Linked DNA regions of Homo sapiens. The protein of the gene in region 2 interacts with the protein of the main gene of each other region in a pairwise test. Each region holds a gene or a part of one and is shown on either strand. Other genes may lie near its edges.

Region 1 (3,819 bases), on a different chromosome or scaffold from region 2:
GATGAGATGGGCTTATGACAACTTTCATTTCTGCTTTATTAATTTTAATGATGTTTGAGGTTCTTTTTCAGTGAGCCTGTATTACATTTATAATGAGAAAAACAAATATTGGTCAAACAAGGCTGCTGTTTGCATGATGCACAGGAAAGAACTTTGTTACTCTGAGGCAGGGAGGGAGGCTGTGCAGGACGGTAGCCCTGATGTCCTCAATGCCTGTAAAATACCACAGAAGGTCCTCACTGATTATTCTGCCCCCAAGGTGATGAAGTTGATGTTTAATTAATGGACCGTGTGTGTATTGTCCTCATTGGAGTCCTTAGCACAGCCAAAATAGAGCATGGAGGGGAAAAAATCCTGTAGGTTCTGGCATTGCTCAGTAAACCCAACTGCACTCTGTCACTTTCCCAGGTTATGGAAACCCCATTGAAGCCAGTTCGTATGGGCTGGACCTGGACTGCGGAGCTCCTGGCACCCCAGAGGCTCATGTCTGTTTTGACCCCTGTCAGAATTACACCCTCCTGGATGAACCCTTCCGAAGCACAGAGAACTCAGCAGGGTCCCAGGGGTGCGATAAAAACATGAGCGGCTGGTACCGCTTTGTAGGGGAAGGAGGAGTAAGGATGTCGGAGACCTGTGTCCAGGTGCACCGATGCCAGACAGACGCTCCCATGTGGCTGAATGGGACCCACCCTGCCCTTGGGGATGGCATCACCAACCACACTGCCTGTGCCCATTGGAGTGGCAACTGCTGTTTCTGGAAAACAGAGGTGCTGGTGAAGGCCTGCCCAGGCGGGTACCATGTGTACCGGTTGGAAGGCACTCCCTGGTGTAATCTGAGATACTGCACAGGTGAGCAGCAGAGCCCTGGAGGAGGCAGCTACACAGCCAATGAGATGCCTCCCAGGCTCAGTAGAGTGAGTGGAGCAAGTCAAGAGGAGACAGGAGAGGATGCAGAGCAGCCTCGACTCAGCTCCTGCCCAGTGAGAACTCAACACAGGGGTTGAGACCTTCCAACATTTCAAGCCAGAAATTCCCATTCAAGGGTGAAATTTCCCAGTTTATAAATGTGTGTAGCATAAAATCCAGAACTCATGCTCGTTCCGATTTTGGCTCCATTTGAGAAGTTTAATTTGCCTCCCTGAGCCTCAGTGTTCTGATCTGAAAAAAAGGGGGGGGGGGTACAGCAAAAATAACAGCTAATACATAATGCTCACAATGTCCTTGTTGCTATCCTAAGTACTTCAAATGTATTAACTCATTTGATCCTCTCCCCAGTTCCACGAGGTAAGTGCTACCTAATTACCCCAGTTAGGGGCACAGAGAGATTAAGGGGCTCTCCTAGTATCACAGAGCTGGAGCATGGTACAGCTGGGATTTGAACTTGGCATTCTAGCTCCAGCATCCATGGCCTTAACCACCATGCTGTCCTTTCTCATTTTGATTGAATAGGCTAATACATTCCTTGTCCTTAGAATAGAGTCTTGCCTGTAGTAAGTGTTCAGGTGGCAGCTTTAGGGCTCTCACTTATCCCATTGGACTGGGAGTCAGGCTTGATGCTTCCACTAAGTATCACACAACCTTGGCAAGATTCTTGTGCCCCGGTGAAATGAAAGGGTTGGACTTGGGGGCCTCAAGTCCAGCCCGCACTGCATCCTGATCTTCTCTCTCCATGCCCCATCACCTAGACCCATCCACTGTGGAGGACAAGTGTGAGAAGGCCTGCCGCCCCGAGGAGGAGTGCCTTGCCCTCAACAGCACCTGGGGCTGTTTCTGCAGACAGGACCTCAATAGTTCTGGTGAGCTGCTCACTGGGCAAGTAACTACCATCCTGAGGGGGCAGGGCAGGAGGGAGGGAGCTTTAGAGGGTCAAGATAAGGTATAAAGCAGAGTCAGGGGCATGGACCTGAGGTCAAGGGAATGTGGGCTCTCCAATCCATTTGCTGTAAAGCCAGTGGGTTTGCAAGGATAGGAGGGCAGGGTTGGAGCAAATTTCCAGGTCAGCTGCTGGGCCGTGGCCTCAGGAAATGGTTCTGACATGGGCAGGCTTGACCCCTGAGGGATGAAGACACTGAAGATGATAATTCTGCTAATGTAGGAGCTATGTTTTCATAGCCACAGGGTCTTCATGTCAGGGACATGGGCAGACTTCTGGGGACAAGTCACTACTGTCTCTGAGCCTGAATATCCTCATCTGTAAAATGAGGATAAGGTAATAATAATACCCACCATACAGGGCTATTGTGAGAACTAAATCAGAGCAGTCCAATTGGGCAGGCTCAGGAGGTGATGAATTTCTCGTCCCAGGAGGTAAGCAAGCAGAGTGAGATGTCCCATGGGTAGGGATGTCATAGACAAACAAGCACTAAGCCCTGGACAGGGGATGGATGAGCCTCCCACTGAGATTATTTCCCTCCATCACTGAACTCTAACAAGGGCCTTTGATCTTGCCTTTGGCACAAGCATGCCTTCCTCTGAGCACACTACAAGTCCCTATGGAAGAGAGAGTGTTCTAGGCAGCAGGACAAGAAGGAGCATGACACATTTGGAAAACGGAGCCACAGTGTGAACAGGGCGATGCTTAGATGTGCCCAGCAGAAGCACCCTGGGAAATGAGGGGTAGGGAACAACCAACAACCTTGATCTCCTTGAAGACTCTTTCTGCTCATTGAGTGGATAAGGCCCCAGAGATTCAGTGTGGTTTTCTGGGGTTTGGGCCCATCACAGAGTCAGATTTTGGGCTTTAAGGAGGCCCTCCCTGTACCTGGATGGGCTCCAAGGACAGTCTCAGCTGACTGAGTGAGCAGGTGGCCTGCCTCAAGTCTTCATCAGTGGCCAGCACAATGATGAGTGTCCAGTGGGCCCCATTGCTTGCAGACACATCCCTCTGTGCTCTGACTTTCACTTCCATCTCCTTCTCCCACACCCTGCTCTCATTTTAGGTTCCTGCGCCTCTGAACTCTGAAATTCCACAAATGCACCATTCCCTCTATCCCATCTCCATGCTTTTGCCTCTCCTGTTCCCTTAGCCTGGGATGCGTTCACTTGCTTTACTGACTTGCAAAACTCCTACCCACGTTTCAAATTTCATACCACTGTGAATCCTTCCCTGACTTCACCAAGAGACTCAGATAGACCTTCTTCTCTGCTCCCCCTGCATCTGTACATACTTCTGTCTGTATCTTTATCATATTGAAGTATAATAAACTGTTGATATGTTGGTGTTTACACAAGACCAAGAAATCCTCATGGGCCAAGTCCATGCCTTATTTACTTCATGTTGAATGCACCTAGCATTTGAGAAGGTGGTTGGTAAAGTGGCTCATGCCTGTAATCCCAACAGTTTGGGAGGCTGAGGCCGGCAGATCGCTTGAGGTCAGGAGTTTGAAACCAGCCTGGCCAATATGGCAAAACCCCATCTTTATAAAAATACAGAAATTAGCCAGGTGTGGTGGCTCATGCCTGTAATCCCATGCCTGTAATCCCAGCCTTGGGAGGCTGAGGCAGGAGAATCACTTGAATCCAGGAGGCAGAGGTTGCAGTGAACTGAGATTGGACCACTGCACTCCAGCCTGGGCAACACAGCAAAACTCTGTCTAAAAAAAAAAAAAAAAAAGAGAGACAGAGAGAGAGATAATGTGGTTGGTAAATATATATTGAATCAATGCATTAATGAATGCAATAGAAACTGTCTTCCTATTAGTTTACTATTTGTCTCCCCTATTCAACTGTTAGCTCTATAAGAGTGGGAATTTTTTCAGTTTTGATAAGTGTTGTAGCCCCAGTGCCTGGCAGATAGTAGATTCTCAAGAAGTTGTGTGT
Region 2 (3,819 bases):
CATGCCTATAATCCCAGTAGTTTGGGAGGCTGAGGCAGGTGGATCACCTGAGGTCAGGAGTTCGAGACCAGCCTGACCAATATGGTGAAACCCCATCTCTACTAAAAATACAAAAATTAGCCGGGTGTGGTGATAGGCACCTGTGGTCCCAGCTACTCGGGAGGCTGAGATAGGAGAATTGCTTGAACCTGGAAGGCAGAGGTTGCAGTGAGCCAAGATTGCGCCACTGCACTCCAGCCTGGGTGACAGAGCAAGACTCTGTCTCAAAAAAAAAACAAAAACAAAAACAAAGAACTTACTTTCAAGAGCTTCCTTTTAAAATGTTCCTTAAAGTGTCAGATAATTTATACATTAACAGTCAAATCTTACAAGCCTTGTCCCAAATAAATAAGATAGACTTCTATGATTTAATCTATGTAATATGTAAGGAAAATTACCTGCCCCAATGTCCACTTGACTATGTGAGGTTTTTATTCAAAATATATTTTTTCCATATGATTCTCTGCTAGCAACTAACAGCTGCCAATCAAGAGGAGCTGTCATAAAAGAAGTCTTACTGATATAGTAAAAAAGACAAATATGAAATTCAAAATCAATCAAACCTGAATTTGACTATTGGCTCTGCCACTGTACAACCTTGATGAGGCTATTTACTAATCCATTTATTTAACTGAAAAAGTAGGGGAATATTATACCCAAGTCACAGGATTGTTATAAAAACTACGTGTAAAAATTCTTAGCTCTCAAAACACTAAAAAGAAGAAAAATGCAACAAACAAAAAAGTAGTAACAGCTAGAGTGAGACTGTGGTACACAGCCCATTGTAATTGACTCTTCTTCACCTATCCTGTGAGTAAATAGGGTCCAAGCATTTCCCATATTACAAAATTAATTATGTAGCAGATACAATTTTCCACAATTTTTGTTATAGGCCTCAAGATTCTAACTAAGGCCAAGTGTTCTCAAATTTACTCATTCATTAAATTCAATCTACACCCTTCATATTCTTCTTATATGTAGGAAACATTTTATAAAATTCTCCAAAATTCCTGTAAAATCCTAGATCCTAGCAGATAGCAATGAAAAGAGATTATCAACCTCCCCGGCCTTAAATTAAAAGTCTCTTGAGGTTTGATCCCTTGAACTAAAATACTTATTAAGGCTGCAAAAGATAAAAAGATTCTACATAAAACAAAACAAACCCTAGATGACAAAAATCTTCCTTTCTCCTGATCTAATCCTCTGGTCCCACTTTCTTCCAGTCCTGAGCTAAGGGCCCAAAAGCAAGCAATTGATTATAAATTGAAGCAACATAATATATACCTCAAAAGTTGTTTCTATTGAGGTGTAGGTATACCCTAATGGGAAGTAGATTTACTTGCTAAGTAAGAAACAATAAAAGATTGGTGTTAGACAGTTTAATACTCCCGTCTCAACAGAAACCATCTTTGTCTACACATTTAACAGTAATTGAAAAGTAAAGGCTAGGCCGGGAATGGTGGTTCACGCATGTAATCCCAGCACCTTGGGAGGCCGAGATGGGCAGATTATCTGAGGTCGGGAGTTCAAGACCAGCCTGACCAACATGGAGAAACCCCATCTCTATTAAAAACACACAAAAAAAATTAGCCAGGCGTGGTGACGCATGCCTGTAATCCCAACTACTCAGGAGGCTGAGGCAGGAGAATCGCTTGAACCCGGGAGGCGGAGGCTGTGGTGAGCCAAGATCGCGCCATTGCACTCCAGCCTGGGCAACAAGAGCAAAACTCCGCCTCAAAAAAAAAAAAAAAAAAAAAAATGGAAAGCAGAGGCTAATACCACTCTATCAAAATACTTCCAAGGGAGTTAAATTTCTATCATTCCAAAATGAAGTTACACATTTGTTTTCCCTAGATACTTCCCTATGAAAATGAATTCCTTTATTGGTAATTTATGTGGGAAATTTTCTAATTTGGTAAAAAGGGCACAAAGAGGTAGTATAACTTTGGTCTAGTCATTTAACCTAGGTAAATAAACAATTTTTCACGTAGACCAAGTGCCCTCCTCTATACCCTTGCTATTCAAAGTGTGGTCCGTAAACCAGCAGAATTGGCAATCACTTGGGAGCTTGCTAGAAATGCCAAATATCAGGCGTACTATACTCCCATATAGGATACTACTAAACCCCAGACCCAATGAATCAGAATCTGCATTTTTAACAAAATACCACGATTTATATACACAATAAAGTTTGAGATGCACCCCCTCTATACAATAAGTACACCTCAATACATTTGACTAAATGATCTTAAGGTCCCTTATAGTTATTTTGCATGAAAAATTATATCCAACATTAAAGCCTATATTCTTGTTCTTTTTTTTTTTGAGATGGTCACCCAGGCTGCAGTGAAGTTGGTGTGATCTCAGCTCACTGCAACCTCCGCCTCCCAGGTTCAAGTGATTCCCCTGCTTCAGCCTCCTGAGTAGCTGGGATCACAGGCACGTGCCACCACGCCTGGCTAATTTTTGTATTTTTAGTAGAGACAGAGTTTTACCATGTTGACCAGGCTGGTCTCAAACTCCTGACCTCGAGTTACCCACCCACCTTGGCCTCCCAAAGTGCTGGAATTACAGGCATGAGCCACTGCCTGAAGCCTATATTCTTATGTAACAAGAGTCAGCTGGAGCTGAGTTAGAGCTGCACTCTCCCTAGCTACCCCAGTCCTCACCTGGCCCTCTCCATCTATTTATGTTAACTGCTTGGCTCCTAGTCAGCAGAATTGAAGAAGTCTGCTTTTCAGTATTTAAAAACAAATAAACAAAAAAATGTTGTCACAGGTAAAAACTCATTAGCTGAATGTTTAGGTAAAAGGAAAAAAAATGTTAATTTACCTTGATGGGAAGTAGTGAGGTCCGGGTAGGAAGTAAGGGTGATGAAAAGAGAATCTTGGTGGTGTCCCGAACAGTGTGGCTGGATGGCCAAGGGGAGGGGGCTGGTAGACATGTGGGTGTGGAATGGGAGAAGCCTGGGGGATTGGAGCACTTCTGGGACAAGGGGAAACGCTGGAATACTCCCTAGGAGGTTGGATGGTCGAAGTTGCAAATCTGGCATGGGCAGTACTTGCACTACTTGAAATCCTGTTGGCGCTCTCTAGAGAGACAGGAGTGGGTTGCTTCACAGTGTGAGTGGCTTCAGAATGCAGCTGATGAGTGTCTGTTTGGGAAGGCCCAGTAAAGCGTTGGGGTGGGAGTGCTGGATAGACAGGTAGACTTGGATCCTGGACAGCCACCTGAGCAGCACTGGAGACGCTGGGCTGGAAAAGTGTGACAGGGCTTGGGCTCTGGACTGCAGGTGTGGGCAGCTGGATAGCAGGTGAGGTTTCACCTTTAGAAATAAAAATAGCATAAATCAAGAATTAACTGAGTCATTCCATGTTTTTCTTCTTTCAGTAAAGTTTAATAAATTGTATAAGCAGAGGCCTTCATCAATCACCTTACCTAACTGCATCATCATATCAAACCACTCTATTTCATTTGCAGCATTTTGAACAAACTGAAGTTATCTTGTTTTCTTGTTCATTTACATTTTTTGTCTCTCTCTCTCAACTAGACTCTAAGTGCCATGAGAAGAGCAACGTTTTCTGTTTCGTTTGCTGCTGTATCCCCAGGGTGAAACATTCTGTCTGGGGCAGAAGAGGCCCTCAACAAATATTTTTTAGATGAATAAACAAATGAATAAAATTATTGATAGATATATTAAAAGACTGAAAACACATAAATGCTGGTATGCATATATACATTTAAAAATAATAATAATATGAAGCTATTGACACTAGTTAC

The links.
Region 1: the proteins of SOX30 (region 2) and GP2 interact in a two-hybrid assay, tested with the Homo sapiens proteins (one large-scale study listed by BioGRID and IntAct).

Annotation. Positions count from the first base shown.
Region 1 is NC_000016.10:20,320,846-20,324,664, reverse strand, and holds part of GP2 (pancreatic secretory granule membrane major glycoprotein GP2 isoform 2 precursor), read left to right. Parts: intron 1-408; coding exon 409-849; intron 850-1,275; coding exon of another isoform or gene 1,276-1,284; intron 1,285-1,685; coding exon 1,686-1,796; intron 1,797-3,819. UniProt on the Homo sapiens protein: Functions as an intestinal M-cell transcytotic receptor specific for type-I-piliated bacteria that participates in the mucosal immune response toward these bacteria. At the apical membrane of M-cells it binds fimH, a protein of the bacteria type I pilus tip.
Region 2 is NC_000005.10:157,635,359-157,639,177, forward strand, and holds part of SOX30 (transcription factor SOX-30), read right to left. Parts: intron 3,365-3,819; coding exon 2,872-3,364; intron 1-2,871. UniProt on the Homo sapiens protein: Acts both as a transcriptional activator and a repressor. Binds to the DNA sequence 5'-ACAAT-3' and shows a preference for guanine residues surrounding this core motif. Binds to its own promoter and activates its own transcription.